4 linked regions of the Homo sapiens genome follow. The protein of the gene in region 4 binds, or shares a complex with, the protein of the main gene of each other region. Each region holds a gene or a part of one and is shown on either strand. Other genes may lie near its edges. The genes, in order: MED7, MED26, MED16 and MED25. A codon is read from its position in the direction of its gene.

Region 1 (7,237 bases), on a different chromosome or scaffold from region 4:
GTCTCCCAATCTCATATCACAATCACTTTTGTTTTATGTTATAGATTTATTTCCAATAGCAAACACTTACTTGTATCTCTCATAAACACTCTGACAAAATTAACATTGCTAAATCCTAAACACATTATTATCCAAAGTTCCTGAATGAAATGATGATTCAGTTCCATACCCTTTTTGTCACAGTATACTATGCAATTTTATATGGACACATTAACTTTTGTTTGTTTTTTGAGATGGAGTCTTGCTCTGATGTCCAGGCTAGAGTGCAGTGGTGCAATCTCAGATCTCAGCTCACTGCAACCTCCGCCTCCTGGGCTCAAGCAATTCTCCTGCCTCAGCCTCCTAAGTAGATGGGATTACAGGCGTGCACCATGTCTGGCTAATTTTTGTATTTTTAGTAGAGACGGGATTTTGCCATGTTGGCCAGGTTGGTCTCTTTACTCCCCATCTCAGGTGATCCGCCCACCTTGGCCTCCCAAAGTGCTGGGATTACAGGCGTGAGCCACCACGCCTGGCCTGTATGGACACATTAACTTCTCTACAACTATCACAGAAATGTCAAACCCCAGGTTCAAACCCAGTATCTATGGCCATAATAACCTCTACTTATTCTACCTTAAGCCTAGGTATACCATCCAATGAGAAGATCCTTAAGTGCTCCTTTAGATTGGTGTTATCAGAGTTTCAAGATATAACACACTCTAACATCGGGTGGGGCAAGTATCCTACTAGAAGCAATATTATACTTAGAATTCGTGAGGTACTGAGGGCAGCTGTGGCGCAGCCCTGAGTTTCCACTATGCCACAGTGGTGCATAGGATGATGCAGCCTCGCCCTCCTAGGCTCAAGCGATCCTCCCACCTCAACCTCCCAAGCAGCTGGGACTACAGGCATGTCACCAAGCCCGGCTAATTTTTGTATATTTTGTAGAGACAGAGTTTTGCCATGTTACTCAGGCTTGTTTCAAACTCCTGAGCTCAAGCAATCCTCCTGCCTTGGCCTCCCAAAGTGCTGGGATTACAGGCGTGAGCCACCACACCCAGACATTTTAAAACTTTTAACATAAATTCAGATTACAGAAAAAGTGCATGAATACACAAAAAACACTTCATATTCTTCACTCAGATTCTCCAAATGTTAACATTTTCCTTCATTTGCTTTATTGGTTTTTCATTCCTTTACCCCTGAATACTTCAGTGTGTTTTCTCGTGACAAGAATGTTTTCTTCTACCCAAAGCACAATTACCAAAATCAAAGAATTAACAGTGATCTGGTACTTCAAAATACATTTTTTTTTTCCCTGAGACAGTGTCTCGCTCTGTCACCCAGGTTGGAGTGCAGTGGCACGATCTCGGCTCACTGCAAGCTCGGACTCCCGGGTTCACGCCATTCTCCTGCCTCAGCCGCCTGAGTAGCTAGGACTACAGGCGCCCGCCACGACGCCCGGCTAATGTTTTCTATTTTCAGTAGAGACGAGATTTCATCGTGTTAGCCAGGATGGTCTCGATCTCCTGACCTCGTGTTCCACCTGCCTCGACCTCCCAAAGTTCTGGGATTACAGGCGTGAGCCACCGTGCCCGGCAGAAAATACAATTTTTGACAGCTCACGTTTCATCCCACTCAAACCTTTTTAGGTGAGGAGTGCTGCTCTGTACTTTCCTACACGATGTGCATTCCTGTATTGCGGCTGCCATTTTCCTAAGGCCAACTACATGACAGGTACCATTTTTTATGGCCTCTGTAACATAATCTTCATTAACAATTCTATGAATTAAGGTTTTTGGGGTTTTTGTTGTTAGTTTTGTTTTTTGAGACAAGGGCTCAATCTGTCTCCCAGGCTGGAGTGCAGTGGTACCATCAGGGCTCACTGCAACCTCTGCCTCCCGGGTTCAAGGGATTCTCCTGCCTGAGCCTCCTGAGTAGCTGGGGACTACAGGTGCGCACCACCACGCCCAGCTAATTTTTGTATTTCTCGGTAAAGACAGGTTTTCACCATGTTGGCCAGGCTGGTCTGGAACTCCTGACCTCAAGTGATCCGCCCACCTCGGCCTCCCAAAGTGCTGGGATTACAGGCGTGAGCCACCACACGGTCCCACGAATTAAGTTCTATTATCAATTTCATTTTAGAAGTGAGGATCCGAAGTCTCAATGAGGGGAAGTGTTGCCCCAGATCAAAAGGTTAATAAATGGCACAACAGGAATTCTTATCCCAGGTCCCTTTAGCTCCAAAGGGCAAGCTCTCTTATATCCCTAAGCCGAGAAGCATCTAACTGTACAATAAGGACTGGCATATCACAAAAATTATATTTCTTTCTCTACTGTCTCTCTAGATGGAACTTTTCAAAGGTGATGGAGGTCTTATTTTTAATAAAAGCAGAGCCAAGCATCAGAGCTGGTTCTTAACTCAAGATCCAACATCTAGTGTTTGTTCTACTGGGGGAGAAGGAGCTTCACCAGAAGACGACAGACATTCCAGGGTCCCAGCCCCAGAGATTTGATTCATTCTGTCTACTGTGAATGGGCCCTAGAATGTCGCTTTTAAAACCTCTCCAGATGGACCTGACGATTAGGCTTGGGATCTACCGCCCTCGCCTGCCCCCATACCTCAGCTGTTTCATAACTGCTCCCAGAAGAAGGAAGGGCAGGGAGGGCTACTCTCATGTTACAAAGAGCCGGAGAGGGCAAATGACTCGCCCAAGGCCACACAGCTTAGAAAAACAGCGGCGCGGGGACTAGACGCCAGGTCTCCCAACCTCCACTCCGGCTCGGCGTCCCAACACGGAGGAAGCCCCGAGACTGCCACGCTTAGAGCCCCCTCCTCCAGGCTGTCCACCCCGAGGCCTCCGCGCTCTCGGAGAGACCGCACTCTCGGAGAGACTCGGGAGAGAAAGACGAAAGACCGCCTTTGGAGGCCGAACTCAGCCATGCCTCCCCAGTTCCCAGCCCAGCACAGAGGAAGCTGCGGGGTCCGGAAGAAAAAAACGCACACAGGCGGCGGCCCCAAACCGTTGCCGCCCACTTACCTCAGCTCTGGCTTTACACTGGTAGCCGCCTTCCCCTCTGCAGCCGAAACCAACTTCCGGTCTCCTCCGGGAAGAAGCCACCGACTCTGTCCTTGATTGGCTGTAAGAGCTGTCCTTTAACGAAATTCTAGCTCCGCCTCAGACCGATCCCTCGCTGTTGCGCCTACGTATGTTTGACTCCTCCCATCCACCCGTTACTGACTTTTAAAAGTCGTAGCTGAGGGTTCCGTTTCTTCGTTTCTTTTTGAATTAAGGCATAAAATTGAACAAGACACCTTATTGCTTTATTTTTTATAGACCCCTTATTGACCAGAAACAATCTTATGTTTTAATGTTTAACATGCTCTTGTAAGACTTAACGTGAATTTAGAAATTTATGACACGAAAATAACCTCCAAAAGAAACGCTTGCTATTGCGCCTGCGTATATTCCACCCCCTTCCCCATTACCACTCTTTTACTGACTTAGTCGCTGCTGGTAGTTCCATTCCTTTTGTCCTTTTTTAATTTAACGCATACAATTAAGACGTCTTACATACAAATTCGAAAATATAGACATGCAGGGTTTTTTTGTTGTTTTTTTCTTTGAGACGGAGTCTTTCTCTTTCGCCCAGGCTGGACTGCAGTGGCGCGATTTCGGCTCGCTGCAACTTCAGTCTCCGGGATTCAAGCGATTCTCGTGCCTCAGCCTCCCGAATAGTTGGGGTTTCACCTATTTTTTTTTCTTTTTTTTGTATTTTTGGTAGAGACAGGGTTTCACCGTGTTGGCGAGGCTCATCTCGAGCTCTTGATATGAAGTGATCCGCCCGCCTCGGCCACCCAAAGTGCTGGGATTGTAGGCGTGAACCACCACTTCCGGACTCCCCCATTTTAAATCCCTCGCACGTATCAATTTATTTCCTGAAGAAATCCATCTACGTTGAGCATAACCCAATCCAGCTTTTCTCCTCACCGCTGACCCCAATGTATCCTGCACCAGTGACTTCCAATGGTCGTTCCCAGTCCTCATTTTACTCCATCTGTCAGCAGCATTTGGCACATTTGATTAATGGATTGCCCCAGGACTCAGTTCTCCAACCACTTCTCAGTCAGATATCAGCTGGATGATTACATGCAGGCCCTGGAACACCGTTTCCTCTGCACTTCAGACCCTCATATCCAGTGGTGACAGACATCTTTCCCCAGTTGCACTTTACTCAATTGCAAATGTTCAATCGAAGGAATCACCTTTTTCTCCTTTCTCACATACCCCACCGAAACTACCATACCAGCCTTTTGCATTAGATCTATTTAAAAATAAGTAAATAAAGTTCCAAATATGACTGACCACCGTTCCCACTGCTATGGTCCTATGCCATGCCACCATTATCTCTCACCTGGACTTCTTTGATTTTTTGTCCTCCCTTAGTCTATTTACCACACCTTCTTAAAATATAAGACCGGTCTTATCACTCCTCTATTCAAAATCCTCCAAGGCTTTCTATGACTTTTAGAATAAAATCTGACATCCTTCCCCTGGCCTATATCACAGGCCCTACAAAATTGCCAAGTACATCCCGGCCTTGGGGCCAATGCATTTGCCTGGAACTCTTTGCACAGATATTGACACGTCTCATTTCCTTCTTTCCTTTTTTTTTTTTTTTTTTTTTTTTTTTTTTTTGAGACGAAGTCTTGCTCTGTCACCCAGGCTGGAGTGCAGTGGCCCAATCTCGGCTCACTGCAAGCTCCACCTCCCAGGTTCACGCCATTCTCCTGCCTCAGCCTCCCCAGCAGCTGGGACTAGAGGCACACGCCATCACGCCCAGCTAATTTTTTTGTATTTTTAGTAGAGACGGGGTTTCACCGTGTTAGCCAGGATGGTCTGAATCTCCTGACCTCGTGATCCGCCCGCCTCGGCCTCCCAAAGTGCTGGGATTATAGGCGTGAGCCACCGCGCCCGGCTTCATTTCCTCAATTCATTCAGGTTTCTGGTCAAATGTGACTTCAAAGAGTTCTTCTGGGGTTACACTACTCTATGCAAAATAGCGCATCCCTAATCTTTCTCTTGGGAGATGCCCCTGAAACCCTTACTATGTATTATCTTTTTTTCATAGAACCTCTCATCATCTGAAATCATCTTACATAGTATATTTATGTATTTTATTGCCTTTCTTATCCATCAAAAATATCAGGTTTATGAGCATGGGACCTTTGTTTCATTTACTGCTGTTGTGTTTGAACCTACATACAACGGTGCCTGAAATTGGCAAATACTCAATAAGTGTTTATTGAATAAGAAACAAAATGAATACAATCATCACTTTCAAATAAATTCATAGCGTGGCTTTGGTGGTTATACCACAGTCTCTTTAGCCAGATCCTCATTGTGTTAAATTATTTTTCTCCAAATTTGATCCAGTGTAACTACACAGGATGATGAGATCCCAGTACATATATGTTTGTGCATGTGTCCAATTTTGTTCTTTGAAATAAATTTCTAGAAATAGAATTACTGGGCCCAAAGGGGCAGTGTCTTAACAGTTAGTAGCAGAATCAAGGCTAGAATCTTGGACTCTTGACTATCAATCTAGTGTTCTTTCCAATAAACTTCAAATGAATAATGGATATGAAGTCCATATCATGAGAAGGGCTAGTGACAATATGATGTGTGTTAAACATTTAATTATATGACTATATTGGCAAAATCTCAATGGAAAGCTTATTACTTAAAGATGCCTACTACAGCTTAACAAGGAATATGCTCGTTGAATAAATCTGTATATTGTGTGTCTGTTGTGCCGGCACTGGTCTAGAAGGCTAAAAAGACAGACAAAAGCCAGTGGGGCCTTTGAAAAAAGTGTTCTTTCTAGAAGGTGTTCTAGAGAGACACAGACAAGAAGTATACAAACAAGTAAAAACTTCGAATAGTGGTAAGGGCTATGGGGGAAAGTATAATACAGATTAATGTGATAGTGACGTGGGTTGGGGAATAGCTACTTTACACAGGGTGGTCAGGGTAGCCTCTCACAGAAGGTTAACTTTGGAAACAAAATATGAAGGAGTGAATTCTGCAGAGATCTGGGAGACAGCAAATGCAAAGAGCGTGGGGCTGCCATGATCTTTCTGAATTAGAGAGAGGAAGGCAGCCTGTGTGCTCCATAGCTAGTGAGCAAAGAAAGAAAGAGCAGGGGAGATGAAATGGGCAAAGACACACGGTAACCGACTTCTTGCCTCCCTTAGGATCTTGGCACATTATAAAAAACATCGCTGTCATTTGAACCTAAATTACAAGCAGAAATTTTTAGTTTCCACCCTATTGATTTTTTAAAATGTAGATTTATTGAGGGATACTTTACATAGAATAAAATTAACTCTAGGTGAATAGTTATAAGAGTTTTGATAAATACATACTGACATAAAACCACTACCACCCGGATTAAGATGTAGAATATTTCATCACCCCAAACAACTTTTTTTTATTTCAATTCCTTCCCTTTATCCCCATCCTCTAGTAACCACTGATCTGATCCCTGTTCATATAGTTTTACCTTTTGCAGAATGTCATATAAATGAAATTAGAAAGTATGTAGTTTTTGGTGTCTGGTTCCTTTCACTTAGCATAATACTTTTGAAGTCCATCAATGTTGTTCAATGTATAATACTTTGTTCCTTTTTACAGATAAGGAATATTCCATTGTATGAATATACTGTAATTCATGTATCCATTCACTGGTTAATAGACATTTGGGTTATTTCAGTTTGAGGTGATTCTTAACAAAGATACTATAAACATTCCCATGCAAGTCAATTGTATGGACATATGTTTTCATTTCTTTTGGATAACAACATAGTGACAAAATTGCTGGACATTATAATAATTATATGTTTAACTATATGAGAAACTACCAAGCAGTTTTCTAAAGAGGCTGCTTATTTTTCATTTCTCAGCAATCTATCGGAGGTATAGTTGCCCTCAATCTGCAAATTGGTGTTATCCTTTTAATTTTTACTTTTTGCTATTCTAATATCTGTATAATGATTTTAATTTGCATTTCCTTAGTATTGGGTATCTTTCATGTGTTTACTGGCCATGTATATCTTTTCTTTGGCGAACTGTCTGTTCAAAATTTTTGCCCATTTTTTAAATTGGCATGTTTTCTTACTATTGAATTGTAAGGGTGCACACACACAAATACACACAAGATATAAGTCCTTGATAAGATATGTCTTTTACAA
Region 2 (7,905 bases), about 33 Mb from region 4:
TCGGAGAGATTTTCAACACCCTGGGCTGAAAGGGTGCACGACGAAAAGAAAAGCTCCAACTGCTCTGAAAAACTGTTAGTAGCCTTTTCAAAAGGAGAGTAGAGGATTTACTTTATTACTGAATTGGCAGAAATTATTAACTCTGAGCCTGCTGCTATAGGAATTCAAATGCATACTCCAGGGGCTAAAAGTGAGAGCACAGAAACTACTTTCCTCCTAAGAATTCCTTTGTCAAGGAGATGGTTGGTAAACACGACTTCGTCACTTCCCTAACTTTCCAGATACTTGTGGATATTAGGTCAGTTCCTGACACCGATTTTGCAAGCAATAGCTAAGTTTGTTAACCATAATTGCATGCCCATAAAGGTAAGCATTACATGACACAATTCTCTGCCGCTTCTCTCAGAAGAGGTTTAATTTTAGTGTTGGCTCTTCAACACTGTCCCCGTTTTTTTTTTTTTCATGAGCATCTTAAATATGTGTCAACTAAATATCCAGTAGTGGAGTTCATCATTGGGCAGGGCAGAGAGGAGAGAGCGGCACGCCGGCAGCACCTGTGCTGGAGCCACCTGCTCTCACCTGAGCCCACATTGATCCAAGAGAAACTGCAGACGCACTGACATGCCCGGCTCTCACCATCACCTCCGCCAGCAATCCTGTCCACCGCGGCTCTGTGTTTCTGCATGGTGTTTGCTCAAAGCAAACGGTCCTGTCAAATGGCCCATAACAGCGCTCAGAGGGTCAATCACAAAGGAGGCACTTTCCTCATTGTTCATAGTCAAGAAGATAACTTCCCAAATCCATCCACCCCATGTTAGTAGGACTCTGCCCAAGATCATCACTAAAGTCCCTGAAAATAAGCGGTATGAAATGCAAATTCCATGCCAGCTAACATAACCAGGGACCTATATAGCATTTCTGCATGTGCTAAGACACACAAAACTAAGATTTGTTCCATCCTCCTTTCTTCTGCCTCAAGGAACCCTTTAGATTAGAACCCTATACAATACTGGAAACTGTGAGGTCACTGGAGTGACCTAATCTACAACACTGTGATCGCCTGTCAAAGTGCCGCCTGATCCCAAAGCTCTCTGAGGTGGCATTAAGGATCAGTGCTAATATCTCAGCAACCTCTCAGACTCTCCAGAAGGAAAGCGAGTGCGTGAAATTAAAAAAATTACCTTCCGGCTCCACAAAAGATGCACAAGTCACCAAGGCTATTTTTTTCATGTCACTAGTTTTATCCTCTAATATTTCAGTCTTAAAATTGCAGTGACACCAGTTACTGCAAAAAGGACATTCTAGAAGGTTTTATATAGCTTGTGCCCACTCCACCCCCAAAGTCATAACAAAAATGTACAATATAACATTTGTTAAAGACAATTACCATCAAGTCAATGTTAATGGGACCTGAATACCAGGGATAAGAGAAGTACTTATATCACAGCAACCAGAGCCTTCGAAAAAACTCATAACCCTTCAGTCTTAACCAAAAATTGTATAAGCCAATGTGAATTATTCCCAAAACATCATCAGAGTGAAGCATATTGCTAAGAGTAATCAGCCAAGCTCATGTAAAAATGAAAGCAAAAACCCCTACGGTGAGAGAAACCTGAGTTACCTGGCCAAGCCAAAGATGATATTTTTCTTCCATTCACAGCACATTAAAAAGTGATCTCAATGGCCACTTCCTGGGAAGCAGGGCCTCCCCTCATACCTGGATGCTACTGCATCTTCCTACCGCCCTGCTCCTGCCGCGGGAAGAATGACCCCTACTGCCAAGAAACTCTTGGAGAAAATATGAGAATAGATCAGTCTTCCCCCCCACCCCCCCACCCCCGCAACAACACACACACACACACGGAAGGGGAGGGGGCGGTCCCTCCGCAAACAGTAGCCTCAGCAAAGGGGCACCCGAGGAAGCGACACTCTGGAGTTAACCCCGACAGTCTGGGTCAAAAACCACCAGGCTGAGACCCCCAGGTGAGGGAAAGAGCCTACTGAAACAGAGCTCTTGGGTAAACGGGAGAGAAAAGTCCTCTTTAATTCACTACCTAAAAAATGGAGCTCTGGCTTGGTCAGAGACGCAATGGGTACTGAGGCCCAGAAAGGCAACAGGAAGGATCCCACCCTCCCCGAGATCATCTATCGTCGGCAGCGACCCCAAGAGGGTTTTGGCAAAGGCGTGTCTAGTCACAGAAGGGAGACAGACTCTCCACGTACCCTAGGTACCCGGCCAGGGGCAAAACAGACTGGGGGTTCTCTCCGAAGCCAGGAAGGTGCTGCCAGCCGAGAGGAGGGGGAAGAAGGACTTCCCTGATCACCCAGGAGGCCAAGACATGGGAGACATAGGTTCCCCGAGTCATACCCCGGACACCAGTTGCTTCACAGCCCTTCTCCCTCCCCTTCCCGCTCCGGGAGGGCTTCCCGGGGGTCTCGGGTCCCGGAGGGAGGGCGAGGCAGAGAAGCTTCGTCCAGAGCAGTGAGGGTCGTAGAGCTGGAGCAGAAAGGGAGGAAAAACTCTAGCCTCAGCTCCCCCGTCTGCTTCCTCCGCCCAGGCCGCACGGAAGCCTCGGCCTCACGTACCGAGCGCTGCCGGGCTGCCCGACCTGCCCCCGGCCCGGGCCCGAGAAGCGAGAGGCAGGGATGGCAGCGGCCCTCGAGGGGAGGTGGGCGCCAGACGGGTCCCCCGAAGCCCGGTGGGCGAGGGGTACAGGAGAGGGGGAGGGTCCCGGGCCCATGCGGCCTCCGTCCCAGCTCGCGCGGCGGGTACTTACGTTGCTCTGGGGGTCGATGGCCTGCAGCAGCCGGTCCCTGATCTGCTGCGGAGACGCCGGAGCCGCTGTCATTGCCTGGGCGAGGCGGGGGGTTGCGGCCGGGCCAGCGGGCGGGCGGGCTGAGGCGGGGGACGGGGGTCACTCACTCGCCGGCCTCCGGGAGCCGGAGCCGCATGTTCCCCGCGGCGCCGGGGGGTTGGGGGCGCGCGGGGTGGCGGAGAGGGGAGCCGGGGCCGGGTCTCGGTCCCGGGCCGCCGCCGCCACCAAAGGAGGAGGAGGAGCCGCCGGAGCCGCCGCCGCTCGCTGCCGCCGCCTCGAGAACCAAACTCCAGTGAGCTGCCCCCGCGCGGAGTACTCTGGGTAGTCCGCGCCGCACGCAGCGTCGGCGCCACGCTGAGGAGGTTGGGAGATGGGGCGGGCGGAGACGCCAGGCCTGGGCGGGGCTGCCCGTGTGCCACGCCCCGCGCCTCCGCGCAAGCGCGCGCAGGCGCACTCGTCCGCCCGTGACGCCCCGCCCAGCCGCCCGGCCTAGGCAGCCGTTGGGAGGAGGTTGGGCGGGGCAACGGCCCCCGTCCAGGTCACGGGGCGGGGCTTTCTGACGGAAGCGCGCGCGCAAAGAGTCCTTGAACCCGGACGCTCGCAGCGGCTACCTCGGGGCGGGGAGGGCGGCGGGAAAATCCTTCCTCTGGGAGAGCCTTCCCGGCGCGTGACTGGGGGACGGGAGTCGCAGGCTGAGCAGCTGCCGAGTTTTTTGTGAGGGCGAGGGAACCAGACGTCCACGTTGTGATTCTGCGCGCAGAAGGGTCATCGGAGTCCGGGGGTGTCGCCGCGGCCCCCCCGCCCCTCAGAGGGTGTGGGAATGGGTGTGGTGGCAGGGCGGGGGTCTGCACCGCCACGCGCGACCCCGATCGCGAAAACGTGAGGCGGCAAAGCGCCTCTGGCAGAAGCCGCCCGCCGTAGCTGGGAAAGCCGGAGGTTGCAAATCTGCGTCTACGCGGCGGCTTCTCCACCTCGGCACCACTGGCATTTGGGCGGGATCGCTCTGTCTTCGGGGCGGGTCCCCCGATCTGTCGGAAGTTGAGCGGCATCTCTGGCCTCCGAAGCGCCCCCTCCCCCAATCTGCAGTCATTGCCGCCGTCCCTTGTGGGGGCACAGTCCCCCCGCCCCCCCACCGGCAGAGAACCCCGTGATTGAAAGACCCTTCTACCCGCCTCTGCCTTGAGATTCTGTAAAACTGAGATGCTCATTCTCTTAACCAAACACGTCACAGAGGAGGAAACGGAGGCCCAAGGTCACCTAGACTTCGGGGTTAAGCCCAGAACCGCAGATGTCAAGTTTAAGGGCGCCCCTCCTCCCTCCACCCTGTTTATTGCCTTGGTAATTGCTCCCCTCTCTCTGGGAGCTCTGTTGGAAATGCTCTTGTGAGACGGGATGGAAAGGCAAGCTCGGCGGCCTCGGGAGAAATCTTTTTTTTCCCACTGTTACAGGAAGACCTAGATTTAAAACAGGAGGAAGACAGCTGATGAGAACCACATGTGTGCCTTGGAGCTGCCCGACACCTGTTAGTCTTGTATTTGTTGTGCTTCTGGGAAATATTTTCATTTGCAAAAACGGCTGCTTCTGCACGTGGCTATGGTTGCGTGCTTCTGCACATGTGAAAAGTTTTACATCACACTTGGAGGAGAAAAGAAACACGGGCAAAACACTTGTCATTTACTGCTCCCAACCTCGCCCCTCCCAGAATGCGGTGCATTGTGTACATGGTGTACATGGTCCAAGTTGGAAACTGGCCCATTCGGAGATAATTCTCTCATTTCTGATAAGCAAAATAAGCAAAGCCTTCCTCAGGCATATTCTGGTCTTGCCTCTCTCTTAATTTCTAACTCGGATGTACAGTATCTTTTTTTTTTTTTAATAAAGTATTACATAGGAGGCAATTTATTTTGCATGGGTCAGGTTATTTTAAGAAACATTTGGGCCGGACGTGGTGGCTCAAGCCTGTAATCCCAGCACTTCAGCAGGCGGAGGTGGGCGATCACTTGAGCTCAGGAGTTCGAGACTAGCCTGGCCAACATGGTGAAACCCCATCTCTACTAAAAATACAAAAATTAGCCGGGCATGCTGGCGCGCACTTGTAATCCTGGCTACTAGAGGGGGCTGAGGCAGAAGAATTGCTTGAACCCGGGAGGCGGAGGTTGCAGTGAGCCAAGATCACACCACTGCACTCCAGCCTGGGCAACAGACTCTGTCTCAAACAAAATGTGGGGCCAGCCACGGTGGCTCATGCCTGGTAGCTCATGCCTGTAATCCCAGCACTTTGGGAAGCCGAGGTGGGCAGATCACTTGCGGTCAGGAGTTCGAGACCTGCGTGGCCAAAATAGTGAAACCCCTTCTCTACTGAAAAAACAAAAATTAGCCGGGCATGGTGGCACACACCTGTAATCCCAGCTACTCAGAAGGCTGAGGCACGAGAATTGTTTGAACCCAGAAGGCAGAGGCTGCAGTGAGCTGAGATCACGCCACTGTACTCCAACCTGGGTGACAGAGCAAGACTGTCTTGAAAAATAAACAAACATCTGGAAAGTACTCAACTTACCCACTTTTTAAAAACTAAGAAGCACTGACATGACTTGGTTCCTCAAGGGCACTGGCTCTTTTTGGTATCCCCAGTAGATAGAAAAATAGTATCTGTGGAGTAAGTCAATGAAAAGTTTCATCAAATACACGGTAGCGTTACACACACCCCCAGACATATGAATGCATTTCAGTTTCTACAGATCTGGTACACCATGGGTCTGGAGAGCTATTTCTGGAATGAATGAAATACTTCATAAAATATAATACTATATACACCAGGATACACAACACACACACGGATATTTAGTTTTATTCCACATTTAATGTACGTAAAAGGGTGTTTTTGTAAATGCAAAGATTAAATCAGACAGCCTCTGAATTGTAGTCTTGAAAACATTAGCAAGTTCTTTTAGGTCCAGGGTAGATACTGCAGTTCACTTAGCCAACTTTCTGCATTGAGACATCCTTGCCAGGGATCCTGTCAGTTATGCGAAGATGCGGCACGAGATAATTCCTCTTGCTGTGATGGTTCGTCCTCAATGACAGGTCCCTTATAGTATTTAGGTACAACAAGGTCTTTTGTGCTTGGAATGCCCTTGAAAAAGCTGCCTCACCTGTTTGTGAAGGGAACCCCAAAGAGAAAGGGAGAGGAAGGGCTGGGTGCAGTGGCTCACATCTATAATCCCAGCACTTTGGGAGGCCGAGGTGGGTGGATCATTTGAGGTAAGGAGTTAAGAGACCAGCCTGGCCAACATGGTGAAACCCCACCTCTACTAAGAATACAAAAATTAGCCGGGCATGGTGGTGGGCACCTGTATTCCCAGCTACTTGGGAGGTAGAGGCAGGAGAATTGCATGAACCTGGGAGGCAGAGGTTGCAGTGAGCCAAGATCACACCACCACACTCCAGCCTGGGTGACAGAGCGAGACTCCATCACAAATATAAAATAAAATAAAATAAATAGAAAAAAGGGAGAGGAAGTAGTTCAGAGTCCATGACTTGCTCTTGCCATGGGAAAAGGCAAGGAAGTTAGTGTCAGGAGGTCAAGTGCAGAGCATCTTCAGCCAACCTGGACAGTGAGGGAGTAGAAGGATGCTTCTCCCTGGACTCACTGCTGTGGCCTAAGCAGGAACCGGGATATTCAAGAGCACTGCAGAGGAAGCCGTGACGAGGCAGGTTCACACAGCTGTACAGGAATAGTCTTCCACAGCGACACCTTGTAATAGCCAGGAGCAACAGCAGGAATGCGCTCATCAGACATGTCAGAAGCAAGCCCCTGAGAGACAGGCCATTTAAAGCACAGGGTTACTAAACTTACCCTAATAAGGGATGTGAGGGCTCCAGGGATTAACAGAAAAAGCCAGTGTGACAAAAACAACCACCCTCCTTTGACCCCTATGTTTGCTTTAACAGGCGGGTGGAATTTTTTTTTTTTTTTTTTCGAGAGAGTCTCACTCTGTTGCCAGTCTGGAGTGCAGTGGCGTGATCTTGGCTCACTGCAATCTCCGCCTTTCAGGTTCAAGCGATTCTCCTGCCTCAGCCTCCCGAGTAGCTGGGACTACAGGCGGGTGCCACCACACCCAGCTAATTTTTGTATTTTTAGTAGAGACAGGGTTTCACCATGTTGGCCAGGATGGTCTCAAACTCCTGACTTCATGATCCGCCTGCCTTGGCCTCCCAAAGTGCTGGGATTACAGGCATGAGCCACCACACCCGGCCGCTGGCAGAAATTTTTAAAACCCTTTCTCATATATGAACTCATTCAACCCTATCAGTTATCTCAGAAGTACCTAGAGATGAGTTTCATAGTTCTGCTTGGCTTTGCACTAAGTCTTGTTTACTCTAAAAGTGAAACCAATTTAAATTGGTTTTGACTAACCTTGACATGTCAAAGATAGGTAGAAGACCTCAATTTTTTAATCCCATCTTCAAGTAGGGATGGGGATACAGAAAGGTTCCAGTTCTGAACGCAAGCCCCGGAACCTGGTTGGGGGGTGGGAATTCATGAATACAATACTTTAATTGCACTGTACAAACACAACACGGCTGGGACACCAACGAATGAAAAAAGTCATTAACTGTGAACATTTTTTTTTTTTTTTTTTTTGAGGCAGAGTCTCGCTTTGTTGCCCAGGCTGGAGTGAAATGGTGCCATCTGGGCTCACCTCTACCTCTTGGGTTCAAGTGATTCTCGTGCCTCAGCCTCCTGAGTAGCTGGAATTACAGTTGCATGCCACCATGCCCAGCTAATTTTTGTATTTTTAGTAGAGATGCGGTTTCGTCATGTTGGTCAGGCTGCTCTGGAACTCCTGACTTCAGGTGATCCACCCGCCTCAGCCTCCCAAAGTGCTGGGATTACAGGCGTGAGCCACCATGCCCGGCCAACTGGGAGCATTTCAATAAGCTCATACCCTCTGACCCTGTGGATATGAGCGTACTGAAATTCACAACTTCTAAAAGTTTATCTGAAGGAGGCAATCAGATGTAGACAAATGTGTATGTACAAGGAAGTTCACTGAAGCACTATTTGTAAGAGTGAAAGATTGGAAGC
Region 3 (8,077 bases), about 49 Mb from region 4:
GGATCCGGGTCGCCACCCCTGGCCACGTGGGACCAGCGCCTCACCTGACTGGTCCCACTCCAGGCAGGTGATGGCCTCGTGGTGCTCTGAGGGGATCGAGTGCAGGTCCCAGGGGTGCTCCGTGTCCAGGATGTGGATCATGCGGGTCAGGTCTGTGGGGACGGGGCATGGTCAGCACGGCCTGGCACCACAGCCTGCAGACGATGACGATGACTCCAGGCAGGCTCCAGGTAAGCCGGTGTGTGTCCCACCCCAGGAAGGTCACAGAACTGCTGTCAGCCGAGTCGACAGCTCAGGGAACAGGCTGTCCCCCCGCAGGAACAGAGCAGGCCTGTGAGGCGCCACAACTGTGTCTTTAAAACCAGATTAGAAGAAAATGACTCCGAAATGTGAACAGTGGGAGCCTCTCCACAGCAGATAATAGGTGGCTTTTTTGCACCCCGATTTGATTCCAATTTTCTGTGGTTTTCTAGTTTTCTCTAATGACCACGTATTATGAGTGCCTATTACTCAAACAATGGAGAGAAGACGGGCACAGCCACCACGCACCTTTCAAAAACCAGTGACACACACCGTCTAGAAAACTGGGGCACGTGTCTCCAACAAGCCTCCGTCAACCAACGCTCCAGCCCGATTCGATCCCGCACACGGGGCGATCTCATGTCTCCTGGCACCAGGTTTGGGGGGCACTGAATCCACCCTCTGTACCCCCAGGAGGCTGAGGCTCTCACACAAGTTACAGAGGAGGGCCAGGGTGAGTGAGAGGTGGCCTGAGAGACCGAGTCCCTTCAAGGCAGTGGGCCGGGCACCTGGGGAACAGGGCGGGACACCATGCGGCCGGGAGGGGAAGCAGGTGGGAGGGGGACGCACCCTGGTCATCGCTGCGCAGGTCCATGGTGAAGGCGATGAGATTTCGGCAGGACCAGGCGCAGGCCAGGGGCACCGATGGGCAGTGGGTGCTCTTGGACCATTTCTCCCACTCACAGACGTAGGCCAAGTCCATCATCCCACCTGCCGCTGGCCGCCGCAAATCACACATGAGGGCAGTCACCAGCTCCTGCGGGAGGGAGGTGTGGTGGGACGTCTATGTTGGCTGAGCACCCAGGGCATGTGGAGTGCCAGGCCAGAAGTGGGAAAACAATGGAGGCCCGTGGTAGAGGGAACAGCCGATGCAAAGGCCCGGAGGCCAGACAGAGCCTGGGGCTGGGGCCGAGGGGGAACATGGAGAGGTCAGGGCCAGTCCTGGGCCTGTGGGCTTCTACTCTCAGTAAGGTGGGAGCCCGGGAGGGCTGGGACCTATTTGGGTTTCACCAGGACCCCTCTGGCTGTCTAGGGAACAGACCATGGGGGCCAAGGGCACAGCCGGGAGACGCAGCGGAGGGTCTGCGCTGGCCCAGGTGAGTGATGATGGGGGCAGCAAGTGGACACTAGCTCTCTCCCGAAGGAAGAGCCCGCAGACAGGCAAGCGGTGGGGCGGCTCCCTGTAGCCGAGGCGGGGCTGAGTGACAGGGAACACCTGTGGCCGAGGCGGGGCTGAGTGACAGGGAACACCTGTGGCCGAGGCGGGGGCTGAGTGTGACGGGGAACACCTGTGGCCGAGGCGGGGCTGAGTGTGACGGGGAACACCTGTGGCCGAGGCGGGGCTGACTGACAGGGAACACCTGTGGCCGAGGCGGGGGCTGAGTGTGACGGGGAACACCTGTGGCCGAGGCGGGGCTGAGTGTGACGGGGAACACCTGTGGCCGAGGCGGGGCTGAGTGTGACGGGGAACACCTGTGGCCGAGGCGGGGGCTGAGTGTGACGGGGAACACCTGTGGCCGAGGCGGGGCTGAGTGTGATGGGGAACACCTGTGGCCGAGCCGGGGGCTGAGTGTGACGGGGAACACCTGTGGCCGAGGCGGGGCTGAGTGTGACGGGGAACACCTGTGGCCGAGGCGGGGCTGAGTGTGTTGGGGAACACCTGTGGCCGAGGCGGGGGCTGAGTGTCACAGGGAACAGAGGGGGCACCTCCTCGAGGCTTTCTAAGCGCCTGGCATCCAGACGGGCTGTTTCGCTTCGCAAAGGCAAAAGCCCAGGGAGCCTGGAATCACCCGCAACCAGGTTCTCCTCAAACCCTAACCCCGGCTCCCTACTTCTTCAGGGCCTGCCCCAGACCCCCAAGGCTCCGCCACAAGCCTCTAAAAGTCTTTCAGCCCCACCCCTGACCCCCTTTGCTTCCCACACTTCATTTCACCCCTTGAGCCCACGGCCTCACCCTAAATTCTCAGGCTTCACCGTAGGGGTCCCATGTACTCTCCAGGTCCAGCCTCCAACGCCCTTAGCTCTCCAGGCCCAACCCCTAAAACTCCCCAGTCCCCAGACTCCACCCCGGGGACCCCACGTACTCTCCAGGCCCTTCCCCTATTGCCCCCAAATACGAGGCTTCATCCCAGGGACCCCATAGCCTCTTCAGGCCCCGCCCCTATAACCCCCAATCTCCAGGGTCCATCCCAGGGACCCCCTACCCTCTCCAGACCCCTATAACTCCGCAGTCCCCAGTCTCCACCCTAGGGACCCTATTCCCTCTCCAGGCCCCGCACCGATAACCCCGCAGTCTCCAGGCCCTGCCTCTACAGCCCCCCAGTCCCCAGGCTCCACCCCGGCGACCCCAAACCCACTCCAGGCCCCGCCCCCGAAGTCCCACCAAGCGCCTTCAGCCTCGCCCCAAACTCTCCTTAGGCCCCGCCCCGAACCCAGCCCCGCGGGCCTCAGGCCTCCCCCAGGTTTCCGCCGCAAACCCTGAGCCCCGAGCCCCGCGCCCCGCGCCCCGCGCCCCGCGCCCCGCGCCCCGCGCCCCGCGCCCCGCGCCCCAGGCCGCCTACCCAGCAGCCTTTGCTCCCGGCCACGCCCCCGACCCCGCAGGCCCCGCCACGGCTGCGCCGCGTTCCCTCGGGTCCGTGGACACGGTCAGGGGTCCGTCCGCCCTCGCCGGGCCCCCGCAGCCCCGCACTCACCTGGTCGGCCCGTGCGCCAAGCTCAGCGGGCGTCCGCGGTGCGATCTTCCCTAGCGCCTCGGGTCTGGCGCCGCCATCTTCCTCGGTAACAACCAGTCGCCTGAGGCGTGGGGCCGCCTCCCAAAGACTTCTGGGAGGGCGGTGCGGCTCAGGCTCTGCCCCGCCTCCGGGGCTATTTGCATACGACCATTTCCAGTAATTCCCAGCAGCCACCGTAGCTATATTTGGTAGAACAACGAGCACTTTCTCAACTCCAGTCAATAACTACGTTAGTTGCATTACACATTGGGCTAATATAAATAGAGGTTAAATCTCTAGGTCATTTAAGAGAAGTCGGCCTATGTGTACAGACATTTGTTCCAGGGGCTTTAAATAGCTGGTGGTGGAACTCAATATTCGTGCTCGCTTCGGCAGCACATATACTAAAATTGGAACGATACAGAGAAGATTAGCATGGCCCCTGCGCAAGGATGACACGCAAATTCGTGAAGCGTTCCATATTTTTTTTTTTTTTTCCATTTTCCCTCCCAGAAACGGAATCTTGCTCTGTTGCCCAGGCTGGAATGCAATGGCGCGATCTTAGCTTGTTGCAACCTCCGCCTCCCGGGTTGAAGCGATTCTCCTGCCTCAGCCTCCCGAGTAGCTGGGATTATAAACATGCGCCACCACGCCCGGCTAATTTTTGTATTTTGGTAGAGACGGGGTTTCGCCATGTTGGCCAGGGTGGTCTCTATCTACTGACCTCCTGATCCGCCCGCCTCGGCCTCCCAGAGTACTGGGATTACAGGTGTGAGCCACCGCGCCCGGCCTTTCTTCCATTTTCTAATGTCCAAGAGTGGGGAAACTGTAAGCGAAGTCACCGACCCCGTTGAGTATTCCTACTTCCAACCCTATTCCCACCTCCTCCTCCAAAAGCCAGTTTAATGCAATGGATGTGGTGCTCTTCTATTTTTATTTTTATTTTTTTTGAGACAGGGTCTCGCTCTGTGGCCCAGGCTGGAGTGCAGTAGCGCGATCTCAGCTCACTGCAACCTCCGCCTTCCAGGCTCAAGCGATTCTCCTGCCTCAGCCTCCCGAGTAGCTGGGACTACAGGCGCGCACCACCATGCCCAACAAATTCTTGTATTTTTAGTAGAGACGGAGTTTCACCATGTTGGCCAGGATGGTCTCAGTCTCTTGACCTGGTGATCTGCCTGCCTCAGCCTCCCAAAGTGCTGGGATTACAGGCGTGAGCCACCGCGCCCAGCCTGTTTTTTCAAAATTTTAATAGCGATGGGGTCTCACTATGTTGCCCAGGCTGATTTCAAACTCCAGGCCTCAAGCCCTCCTTCCACCCCGGCCTCCCAAAGTGCTGGGATTATAGGCGTGAGCCACCGCGGCCTCACTGCATGATTTTTGCAAGAATTCTGCAAATATAAAACTGTTCTAAAATTACAGGTTAACAATGGCCCAAATATCAGAGTGTTTTTTCTGGATCAGGGTTCAGTTCTCCAAGAGGGCCACGCAGTGACCTTACAGAAAATCCCCATTCCCAGGCAGCAGGTAGGGATTTAACGTTCTTAGCGGCCCGGGTGTGGTGGCACACACCTGTAATCCCAGTACTTTGGGAGGCCAAGGTCTGAGGACAGCTTGAGTTTGAGACCAGCCTGGGAAACATAGCCAGACCCCGTCTCTACAAAAAAAAATTAAAAATTAGCAGGGTTGGGGAGGGAGGGGCGCTGGGCAAGGTGGTTCAGGCCTGTAATCCCTGAACTTTGGGAGGCTGAGGCACGCAGATCACCTGAGAACAGGAGTTCGAGACTAGCCTGGCCAACATGTTGAAACCACATCTCTACTAAAAATACAAAAATATTAGCTGGGCATGGTGACACATGCCTGTAGTCCTAGCTACTCTAGAGGTTGAGGCAGGAGAATCACTTGAACCCAAGAGGTGGAGGTTGCAGTGAGCTGAGATCGCGCCACTGCACTCCAGCCTGGGGGACAGAGCAAGACTCTGTCTCAAAATAAATAAATAAATAAATAAAATAGCTGGGTGGGGTGATGCACACCTGTAGGCCCAGTTACTCAGGAGGCAAAAGTGGGAGGATCACTTCAGTCTGGGAGGTCAAGGCTGCAGTGAGCTGGGATTGTACCTCTGCACTCCAGCCAGGGCAACAGAGCCAGACCCTGTCTAAAAAAAAAAAAAAAAAAAAAAGAGAGGTTGAATTCCTAACTCCCACTACCTCAGAATGTGACCTTATTTAGAAACAGGGTCTTTGCAGAGGTAATCAGGTTAAAAGGAGGTGATTAGCATGGGCCTAACCTAATGACGGGCATCATAGAGATGGATATTTGGGCACAGACACGTGAGGAGAGGACGATGTCAAGACAAGACATAACACACAGGGAAAACGGCCACTTGGAGATGAGACCACAGCAATGTGGCCACAAGCCATGGACACACGAAGTCCCCAGAAACCGGGAAAGGCAGGAAGGCTCCTCCCCTAGAGACGCTGGAGGGAGCACTGCCCTGCAGACACCATGACCTCATTCTTCTACCTCCAGCATTGTGAGAGGATAGATTTCCCTTTTGCTTCTCTTTGACCTAGGGTCTTCCTCCATACCCAGGCTGAAGTGCAGTGGCACGGTCTCAGCTCACTGCAGGCTCAAGTGATCCTCCCACCTCAGCCTCCCAAGTAGCTGGGACTACAGGCGCACACCACACCCTGCTAATTTTTGTGTGTGTGACAGAGTTTTGCTCTTGTTGCCCAGGCTGGAGTGCAAAGGTGCGATCTCAGCTCACTGCAGCCTCTACCACCTGGGTTCAAGCAATTCTCCTGCCTCAGCCTCCTGAGTAGCTGGCATTACAGGCATGCACCACCACACTCGGTTAATTTTGTATTTTTAGTAGAGATGGGGTTTCTCCATGTTGGTCAGGCTGGTCTTGAACTCCTGACCTTGTGATCCACCCGCTTTGGCATCCCCAAAGTGCTGGGATTACAGGTGTGAGCAGCCACCATGCCCAGCCAACCCTGCTAATTTCTCTCATGTTTTGTAGAGACAAGGTCTTGCTATGTTGCCCTGGTTGGTTTCAAACTCCTGGGCTCAAGCGATCCTCCTGCCTTGGCCTCCCAAGGTGCTGGGATCACAGGCATGAGCTACTGCACTGGCCTTCTGTCGTTTCAAGCCCCCTGTGTGAGACCCTCCATTACAGGGGCCCCAAGGCACTCGTACAAGCCACTCACTCAAGGTCTACAGGGGCCCCAAGGCACTCCTACAAGCTCCTCACCCAAGGTCACACGGCAGGCATGTGGCAGAGCCAGGGTTTGAATCCAGGCAACCAAGGGCAGAGGAGCCAGGGGGGCACCTGCAGCCCTTGGTGGCCAGGACCTACTAAGCCCCCGGCCCTGCCCCGAAGAAAAACACACATAGCCCGAGGCCAGAGCACCAGAAATTTATTAAATTCCCCACTTTCCCCCAAAACACAATTACCCACACGCAGCAAGGGGGTGCGGAGGCCCCCCAGCCTGGCTCCTGCAGCCTGGGCCAGGAGGACCAGCATGGGGACACAGGAGCTATCAGGCAGGAGTCAGGCTGGGGGACGAGGGGACACGGGATGGGGTGACAGACAAGGTAGTGCAAGGGCAGAGGCTTCTGGCTGGAAGTCCTGGACCCCCAGCATAAAGGAGGGGAGGAAAGGAAGGGGGCTCATATAAAGCAGGAGACCCTGAGCCCCGACACAGGTGGCGTGGGGGAGGACACGCAGAATGACGAGGATAAAACCGGCTCTTAGGACCGTGGCTTCTGTCCTGGGTCTCAGGGCACACGCGCGCACACATATACAACACAAGATGCTTCTGGCATGAGGGGCAGGGTCCCAGAGACCCCACCCTCATTCAAGCTAAAAACTGGGAGGGGCTGAGCAGGGGCTGGGACCAAGACCCATGTTTTACCAGTGGGGCGAGTTTTTTTGGTTTTTCTCTCCAAAAGGGAAATTTAAAAATCTACAACAAATCACACCAAATTCATTAAAAGTGATAAAAACCCAGCCTCCCCCTCCTCACTTGAGCTTCAGACCGGGCCAGAAAAGCTCAACGATGAAGAAACAGGAACATGCCCAGGTCAGGTCTCCCCACCCAAACACAAGTCCCGGAGTGGGAAGCTTGGAGCTGGGATGGCATGGGCAGCCCCAGCCGCCAGCGTCTGTTGACTGCCAAGAGCTGCGTGAGGAGGGGGCAGAGTGAGAGAGACCACCCCAAGCGAAAAAGGTTTCCGAGGACAAATTCTAAAAATATGAAAGATATTTTAGCCGAAGGTATCGGAGGGCTTGATGGCTGGGCGAGGTGGCAGCGGGGTCTCCGCGGGGCCGCCATCAGCTGTGCTGCTCCAGGTAGGCGGACAGGAGCAGCCCCGGCGGCAGGAAATCCAGGTGCCGATTACTGACCTTCATCTGCCGCTTCCCCTCCAGGTCAGCACCTGCAGACGGGACCAGCGGGGCAAGAACGGGAGGAATTTGGGAGCCGCGGCAGGTAGAGGTGCCTCGGACCTGCACCACCCTCGCTTCTTCCCAGGGAGGTCACCGCCAGCTGGTGTGTGCTGGTCACTGCGGCCTGGCTGGCCCTAAGCCCGCAGGTCCGGGAGCCTGGCTCACAAGAATACCTAAGGCTCCCTACAGGAGCACTCTCCTCGGGCCCATCTCACTCCCCGCTGGCACTCATTCCACTGTGCGGATGGGGACCCTGAAACGCACTGGGCCTGAGGCCGCATGGCCACTCACACGCCTGCCTGGCGGAGTGTCCGGCCTCCCCTCAGGCTCCCTGCCCTGCAGAGGTGGCTCTGAGGCACCCAGGTCCTGAGTGGTCCAGCTCCCACCGGCCTCCCCTTCCCCATCTCCCCCTCACTGCAGAAAAATGAATGACCTGGCCAGGCGCAGTGGCTCATGCCTGTAATCCCAGCACTCTGGGAGGCCAAGGCAGGAGGATCATCTGAGGTCAGGAGGTCGAGACCAGCCTGACCAACATGGTGAAACCCTGTCTCTAGGGCTGGGCGCGGTGGCTTAAGCCTGTAATGCCAGCACTTTGGGAGGCTGAGGCAAGCGGATCACG
Region 4 (7,865 bases):
GACAGAGTGAGACCCTTCCTCAAAAACAAGAGAGGCCTGGGGCTTCCTCTTTGCTCTCTCTATTGGGTCCCTCAATCTGAGGAATGCCAGTTGCCATGTTAGACAGTCAACCAGCCCTGTGGAGAGGTCTTGTGGCCAACAGCCACAGACTCGCCACCTTGGGAACGGATTCCCCACCACCAGTCAAACCCCTGGATGGCTGCAATCCTGCCGACCTCCTGACTATTGCCTTGTGAGACCCTCAGCCCAACCATCCAGCCAAGCCACTCTTGTGTCCTTGACTCACAGAAACTGCGTTAGATAATAAATGTTTGCAGTATGCAGCCATTATTTGGTGGTAATCTATTATACAGCTAAGAATAAGTAATACAATGAAATACTAATACAAGTACTATCCACATCCCCACTTCACAAGTGAGATACTAGGCACAGAGGGGACAGACTCCTGGGTCTGAGAGTTAGTTCTGTGCTGGAAGAGCCAGGATTTAACCCGTCTGCCTGACTCCAGACTCTACAATGTCAACTATCAAAATCCGATCCAGCGCCAGGCGTGGTGGTGAGGCAGGAAATTAAAGAAAAAAAATTAAAAAGAGAAATAAGTTCTATGTATTAGGCTGACTTGTCTGAGAGGCAGCAATGGGCACAGCCCAGACCCAGGAAAAGTCTTGATAATACTATCTAAAGTGCTCTTGGAGACTCTCCCAGCACTCCCTCAACATAGAGAGAAGAAAAAACAAATTTTCCTTTGTTTTATGGAATGAGTTTATAGATTCCTGTTCTCTGTAACTCATGACTTCAAGTATTCTGTTTTATCTAAGAAGTACAGCGAAGGTCATGAGAAGCCTGAGCTGCCTGGGCACCACAGTGAAGGTTATGGGATAAGCCCGTGCCTAGGCTAACCTAGATAAGGGACATCTGGGTTGCATAGCAACGGTTATGTGCAATCCTGAGTTATAAACCTGTTACAACAATTTGATTAACTGTTTTTGTTCTGCCTCTGTATCCCTGCTGTCACGCCACTGTAAGCTTGCTTCAAGCTAGCCCACCCCCTTTTGTGAAGTGTGTATAAAAGTCAAGTGCTACCTTTGTTCTGGGCCGTCTTTGGACGTGAGTCGGCTTGGGCCTGAGTGCACTCAATGAAAGATTCTCCTGCTTTAACCCGAGGGCTCTCTCCTGTCGTCCTGAATCCCGCAACAGTGGCTCACCCCTATAATCCCAGCACTTTGGGAGGCTGAGGCAGGCAGATCACATGAGGTCAGGAGTTTGAGACCAGCCTGGCCAACACAGTGAAACTGTCTCTACTAAAAATACAAAAAAAAAAAAAAAAATTAGCTGGGCATAGTGGCGTGTGCCTGTAATCCCAGCTACTTGGGAGGCTGAGGCAGAAGAATCGCTTCAACCCAGGAGGTACAGGTTGCAGTGAGCCACGACTGTGCCACTGCACTACAAGCCTGGGAGACAGAGCAAGACACTGTTTCAAAAAAAAAAAAAAAAATTCTGACCCAAGCCACAGAGGGATCTATCCTGGCTCTGACCCATCCCCCTGCACTGAGGCTACAATGTACCCATCTGGAAAAGGAGGACAGGGGTAGACGGAAAAAGAGAGGACAGAAAGGGGACAATCACACAGGGAGTACAAGGTGGCTGCTGGAGCTCAGCCAGGCCTCCCTGAATGGGAAGGTTTTTCCTACTTCTAAACTGATGGCAACATTGCTGAGCACACAGAAGCCACCACAAAAGTGACTTCTGACAAAAACACAATCACCCTCAAAGTCCTTTCAATCCCTTAATGTATGAGATGTTTCCTGCAGCTCAAACCCAAGCCATCGCTCATTCACGGCCCCTCGCAGGGACCCCAACCACCCCAAGCCATTACTTATTCACAGCCCCTCACGGGGACACCAACCACCCCAAGCCATCACTTATTCACAGCCTCTCACGGGGACACCAACCACCCCAAGCCATCACTCATTCACGGCCCCTCACAGGGACCAGCAACCCACCCCAAGTGGGGGAAAGCTCACTTAATGCCATCGAGCCAGGTGACAAACTCATAGGCGCTGCTGGTGGGAGCGTGACATTGTACGTAGGACTCGGGAGCGCAGTCCACTGTGTTGAACACCACGAGGCTGTACTGGGTCCCCCCATACTGGGAGGGGAGGACAGAAAACTTTTAATCTGGGACCTCAATTCCCTTTTCCCTTAGAGAAGGAATCAGGGCTCCCAGCTTCCCGTTCCTCCAGAACCAGGAACTCCTCAGCTTCCTCCTTCCTCAGACCCAGCAATCTCGGCCCCAGCCCCTTCTCCCTCAGACCCAGGAATCCAGGCCCCCGGCCCCTCCTCCCTCAGACCCAGGAGCCCAGGCCCCAGCACCTCCTCCCTCAGACCCAGGAATCCAGGCCTCAGCTCCTCCTTTCTCAGACCCAGCAGTCCAGACGCCCAGCCCTTCCTCCCTCAGACCCAGGGATCTGGGCCCCTAGCTCCCTCCTCCCTCGGACCCAGGAATCCGGGCCCCAGCGCCTCCACCCTCAGACCCAGGAGTCCAGGCCCCCAGGCCCTCCTCCCTCAGAACAAGGAGTCCAGACCCCCAGCCCCTCCTCCCTCAAACTCAGGAGTCCAGGCCCAGCCCTTTCTCCCTCCCTCAGACCCAGGAGTCCAGGCCCCCGGCCCCTCCTCCCTCAGGCCCAGGAGTCCCTAGACTCACGTCTCCCCCGAAGTCCGTCTCAGCAGGAGGACCACCATTAAAATACCTGTGAGGGTAGGAAGTGAAAGGTCGGAGTCAGGCAAGAAACTGTGCGAAACTGAAGTGGGAGGGCGGGGTTAGAGTCGCGGAAACAGCACTCACTCGATGGCCGGGAGCAGGTAGTGCTTGCGGAGCCCCTCGAAGTAGGGTCCCAGGTTGGCCGTACCCTCAATCACAAACACCACGTCGGCCACCACGCTCCCGGCGCGGGCCGGGCCCTCGGACCCGGGGACCATACCCCGTGCGGTACCCGCCACCACCACTGCAGCCGCAGCCGACGCCGCGGAATGAGCAGAAATGCGCCTGCGCCGCGCGCGCGCTCGCGTCGGGCGGTTTAGGGCTGCTGGGAATGCTGCCATGTTTGTGCGGGGCACGCGCTGAGGCTTCGTTCTAGCTCCATCCTCCTTCGCCCCCACCGCGTGGAAGACTCAGAAAGGGCATAGTTAGCCCTTCTAGGGGCCTGATGGGTTAGACGGAATTATTGTCAAAAGCTAAATAAATTGAAAGCGGCTCAGTCAGCCGCCATCTTTGAGCGGGGCGTCCAGGTCCGCCTCTTGTCTCAAAGGGAGGGGCAGGAGACCTGGTTGCTATGCAACGCGTACGCTGCCCTTGTTTTCGTTTTTGTGTTTTGTTTTTTGTTTGTTTGTTTTTTCGAAACGGGAGTCTCGCCCTGTCGCCCAGGCTGGAGTGCAGTGGCGCGATCTCGGCTCACTACAACCTCCGCTTCCCGGGTTCAAGCGATTCTCCTGCCTCAGCCTCCCGAGTAGCTGGGATTACAGGTGCCCGCAACCACGCCCCGCTAATTTTTGTATTTTTAGTAGAGAAAGAGTTTCACCCTGTGGGCCAGGCTGTTCTCGAACTCCTGACCTCAAGTGATTCGCCCGCCTTGGCTTCCCAAAGTGCTGAGATTACAGGCGTGAGCCACCGCGCCGGGCCCGCTGCCCTTGTTTTGTAACCGTTAGATTAAGTTTCTGGTTCTGTTCTTTCGGGCGTGGGGACTAGGGGAGGGACGCGAGAAGGATCCAATCACATCGGCGGAAACGAGGTTACTAGGCGACGCTTTAAGGTCGTCCTCAACTTGGAAGGGAGGGCAGTTGTTTTCCCCCCCGAAAAGAAGCCGAACACCAAACCAAGTGCGGGTTGCTAAGCAACACCTGAGCGTTGTTTTCTGGGAGAGGAGCCAGAAACTGGCTTAGAACGTAAATACATTCCAGGTGGATTAAAAATGTAAGTGCAACAAATGAAACCCGAAAACTATCTGAAGGGAAAAAATCTTAATGACTGCCATGGAGTTTCTTAGCACTACAGCAAAGTTAGAAAACGTAGTCTTCATTAATTTTTCCCAAAAGACTGTATAAACCAAGTTGAAAAATATACGGCCAACTGGGAAAATCTTTCTAGCGTGTTTGTTGACAGAAATGTACTACGCAAATAAATCTTACTGATGAATAACAATATAGAAAAATAGAAACACTTCATTACTATTATCTTTTAATTTTAATTTTTATTTTTTGAGGCAGGGTCTCTTTCTGTTGTGCAGGTTGAAGTGCAGTGGCCCAATCTTGGCTCACGGCAGCCTCTACTCGCACTGGAGCCACTCTTCAGCCTGTGGAGCAGCTGGGACCACAGCCGCGCACTACCACTTCCAGCTAATTTTTAAATTTTTTGTAGAGATGGGGTCTCACTGTGTTGCTCTGGCGTGTCTCAAACTCCTCGGCTAAAGCGATCCCAGGTGTTAGCCATCGTGCCCTGCCACTTTATATTTGTTTTAATAGAAAGAAACCTGACCAGGGCCGGACGCCGTGGCTCACGCTTGTAATCCCAGCACTTTGGGAGGCCAAGGCGGGCAGATCACCCGAGGTAAGGGGTTCAAGACCAGCCTGGCCAACATGGTGAAACTCCTTCTAACTACTAAAAATAAAAAAATTAGCCGTCCTGGTGGGCGTCTGTAATCCCAGCTACTTGGGAGGCTGAGTCAGGAGATTCTCCTGAACCCGGGAGGCGGAGGTTGCAGTCAACTGAGATTGTGCCACTGCATTCCAGCCTGGGCGGCAGAGTTAGACTCCGTCTCAAAAAAAATAAAAATAAATAAATAAAAAGAAACCTGACTAGTTTCACACAAACACACACACAAAATTTTGAATGGCCAGTAAATATTTTAAAACATAATCTTCGGCCGGGCGAGATGGCTCATGCCTGTAATTCCAGCACTTTGGGAGGTAGAGGCGGGCGCATCACGAGGTCAGTATCACTGGGCGTCGTGGTGCCCACCTGTAATCCCAGCAACTCGAGAGGCTGAGGCAAGGAGAATCGCTTGAACCCGGGAGGCAGAGGTTGCAGTGAGCCGAGATCACGCCACTGCACTCCAGCCTGGGCGACAGAGCGAGACTGTCTCAAAAAAAAAACAAAAAAAACAAAAAAAACAGGCCGGGCGCAGTGGCTCATGCTTGCAATCCCAGCACTTTGGGAGGCCAAGGCGGGCAGATCACGAGGTCAGGAGATCGAGACCATCCTTGCTAACACGGTGAAACCCCGTCTCTACTGAAAATCCAAAAAAAAAAAAAAAAAAATTAGCGGGGCGTGGTGGCGGGCGCCTGTAGTCCCAGCTACTCCGGAGGCTGAGGCAGGAGAATGGCGTGAACCCGGAAGGCGGAGCTTGCAGTGAACAGAGATCGCGCCACTGCACTCCAGCCTGGGGGACGGAGCGAGGCGCTGTCTCAAAAAAAAAAAAGTAATAATAATAATAATAATCACCAATTGAAAAGTACTTACAGAAAGCCTAATGATAAAGGTTTTTACCTTTATCATTTAAAATTATTTTTTATTGGGTTTCTATTTTTCTTTTATCTTTTATTTTTATTTTTATTTTTTTTTATTTTATTATTTTTTTTTTGACAAAATCTCGCTCTGTCGCCCAGACTGGAGTGCAGTGGCGCAGTGTCGGCTCGCTGCAGCCTCTGCCTCCCTGGTTCCACCGATTCTCCTGCCTCTGCCTCCCCAGTAGCTGGGACTACAGGTGTGTGCCACCTCGCAGGCAAATTTTTGTATTTTTGTTAGAGACAGGGTTTTACCATGTTGGCCAGGCTGGTCTCAAACTCCTGACCTCAGGTGATCCACCCGTTTTGGCCTCCTAGAGTGCCCGGATTATAGGCAGTGAGCCTGCGGAAGCCCTTTTTTTTTTGAGACAGTCTCATTTGCTGAAGCTTTTTTTTTTTTTTTTTTTTTGAGATGGAGTTTTGTTCTTGTTGCCCAGGCTGCAGTGCAATGGCACAGTCTCGGCTCACGGCAGCCTCCACCTCCTGGGTTCAAGCGATTATCCTGCCTCAGCCTCCCGAGTAGCTGAGTTTACAGGCATGCGCCACCACGCCCAGCTAATTTTGTATTTTTAGTAGAGCCGGGGTTTCTCCATGTTGGTCAGGCTGGTCTCGAACTCCAGACCTCAGGTGACCCGCCCACCTTGGCCTCCCAAAGTGCTGGGATTACAGGCGTAAGCCGCCGCGCCTGGCCTGCTGAAGCCTTCAAATCCATACAATCATATGATTTTACTCCTGTGTGCTTGGCAGGCATCTTTCCAATTTTATGAACACTTTCTTACATTACTAGTATGCCATTGTTACCTGTAACAAAATTAACTTCTTAGTATCATCCAACAGTAAGTGTGTAATCAAACGTTCCAATTGTCTCAAAATGTGTTTTTACAGTTGGTTTATTTGTATCAGGATCCAAACAAAGACCACACACATATTTAGACATTATGTCTCAAGTTTCTTTTCATCTAGAGCAGCCCCCTCTTTTATGCCTGTGTAACTAACATTTTAATAAAGTTGTAAGGAAGATAAAAGTAATCCAGAGAAAGGAAAAAAAATATCAATAGGCAAGAAGGAAGATTAAAATGGTACCTAGGCCAGGCATGGTGGCTCCTGCCTGTAGTCCCAGCACTTTGAGAGGCTGAGGTGGGTGGATCATTTGAGCCAAAGAGTTTGAGACCAGCTTGGGCAACATGGCGACACCCTGTCTCCACAAAAACTACAAAAATTAGCTGGACGTGGTGGGGGCACACCTGTAATCCCAGCTACTCAGGAGGCTGAGGCAGGAGAATCGCTTGAATCCTGGAGGCGGAGGTTGCAGTTAGCCGAGATGGTTCCACTGCACTCCACCTTGGGCGACAGAACGAGACCCTGTCCCCTCTCCCAAAAAAAAAAAAAAGAGAAAAAGATGTACTTTAGGAAGTAGGAAAATTAAAAATTATGCTAGAAAGATGGGCTGATCTGCAAGAAGGAAGAGGAAGGGAAAAATGAATCATAAATACTTTTGTCATTACAAGTAAATGCTGCCTGTGTAAAATAATAAAAATATTCATAAGGGCATTTTAAAAAGTCAGTAAAATGCTGTCCCAGCACTAGTTGGCTAGTCTGGAGGAGTTCAACAACCTAATGTACATCAATACAGAATTGGTCAAATCAATTTGTCACATCCATAAAATAGATTATAAAAATACATTATTAAGATGAAATAGACATACTTTTTCATGGCAAAAAAGAAAGTGTGGAAATGTTAGTATATTGATCATCTTTGTGAAAACGTATGAATAGTCTACGTTAAACTGTATTTTAGGAAAAAAATTGGGGAAGGGATTTTTCACATTTTACATGGTATGCTATCATGTATAAATTCATTACAGAAATGATATTATTTTTATTATTCTGGAAAATAAAGGATTTCCTTGTTTTCTTTTTTCTAATAACAAAAACAACCTTTTTTTTAGTGGTTACTAGGCAACGATCGCTGGACTCAACCACCCTCGAAGGTTGTAGGGGAGATGGTGTTTTTCTCGATTTCGCCCCAAGGAGGGTGCTCGGACTTCGACGTGCCGCCATCTTTGAGCAGGGCACAGCTGTTTACAGCCTTGGAATGGATATCAGGCTGAATGGTGGTTGCTTGGCAACGCCCCGCCACGGTCGCCATCTTTGAGTAGGGCACATTGTTTACTACTATATACTGGAAACCTACAGGGAATGTGGTTGCTAGGCAATGCTTTGGGACCATCGCAATCTTTGATCCGGGCACAGCTGTTTTTTCCGTTTAGAATGTAAATCATCAAAGCCTACAGGATGGTGGCTAG

The links.
Region 1: MED25 (region 4) and MED7 share a complex: the UniProt entries of both Homo sapiens proteins name them as parts of the mediator complex.
Region 2: MED25 (region 4) and MED26 share a complex: the UniProt entries of both Homo sapiens proteins name them as parts of the mediator complex.
Region 3: the proteins of MED25 (region 4) and MED16 are in contact, whole or in part, in a cryo-EM structure (PDB 7EMF), measured with the Homo sapiens proteins. Residues at the interface, in NP_112235.2 of Homo sapiens: Ala26 (codon at 2,904), Asn27 (codon at 2,901), Gly29 (codon at 2,895), Pro30 (codon at 2,892), Tyr31 (codon at 2,889), Val74 (codon at 2,110), Asp75 (codon at 2,107), Cys76 (codon at 2,104), Ala77 (codon at 2,101), Pro78 (codon at 2,098), Glu79 (codon at 2,095), Val82 (codon at 2,086), Cys84 (codon at 2,080), His85 (codon at 2,077), Pro87 (codon at 2,071), Lys102, Phe103, Met104, Gly105, Gly106, Gly107, Gly108, Glu109, Thr120, Gln123, Leu124, Asp127, Phe128, Tyr151, Leu152; in NP_005472.2 of Homo sapiens: Cys41 (codon at 919), Arg42 (codon at 916), Ser92, Ser94, His113, Arg161, Lys163, Phe171, Gly172, Gly173, Lys174, Pro195, Gly485, Tyr486, Ala516, Ala517, Gln520, Val521, Thr524, Arg525, Ile554, Ala555, Ser558, Lys561, Ser562, Leu563, Leu564, Arg565, Pro566, His567.

The regions. Positions count from the first base shown.
Region 1 is NC_000005.10:157,139,797-157,147,033, forward strand, and holds the start of MED7 (mediator of RNA polymerase II transcription subunit 7), read right to left. Parts: upstream 3,070-7,237; 5' UTR 3,024-3,069; intron 2,980-3,023; exon of another isoform or gene 2,605-2,979; intron 1-2,604. UniProt on the Homo sapiens protein: Component of the Mediator complex, a coactivator involved in the regulated transcription of nearly all RNA polymerase II-dependent genes.
Region 2 is NC_000019.10:16,625,095-16,632,999, forward strand, and holds the start of MED26 (mediator of RNA polymerase II transcription subunit 26), read right to left. Parts: upstream 3,111-7,905; 5' UTR 2,850-3,110; coding exon 2,778-2,849; intron 1-2,777. UniProt on the Homo sapiens protein: Component of the Mediator complex, a coactivator involved in the regulated transcription of nearly all RNA polymerase II-dependent genes.
Region 3 is NC_000019.10:890,093-898,169, forward strand, and holds the start of MED16 (mediator of RNA polymerase II transcription subunit 16), read right to left. Parts: upstream 3,096-8,077; 5' UTR 2,994-3,095; intron 1,058-2,993; 5' UTR 1,040-1,057; coding exon 871-1,039; intron 153-870; coding exon 45-152; intron 1-44. Other genes in the region: R3HDM4 (R3H domain-containing protein 4), read right to left, coding at 7,345-7,448. UniProt on the Homo sapiens protein: Component of the Mediator complex, a coactivator involved in the regulated transcription of nearly all RNA polymerase II-dependent genes.
Region 4 is NC_000019.10:49,813,456-49,821,320, reverse strand, and holds the start of MED25 (mediator of RNA polymerase II transcription subunit 25), read right to left. Parts: upstream 3,033-7,865; 5' UTR 2,980-3,032; coding exon 2,846-2,979; intron 2,751-2,845; coding exon 2,705-2,750; intron 2,150-2,704; coding exon 2,025-2,149; intron 1-2,024. UniProt on the Homo sapiens protein: Component of the Mediator complex, a coactivator involved in the regulated transcription of nearly all RNA polymerase II-dependent genes.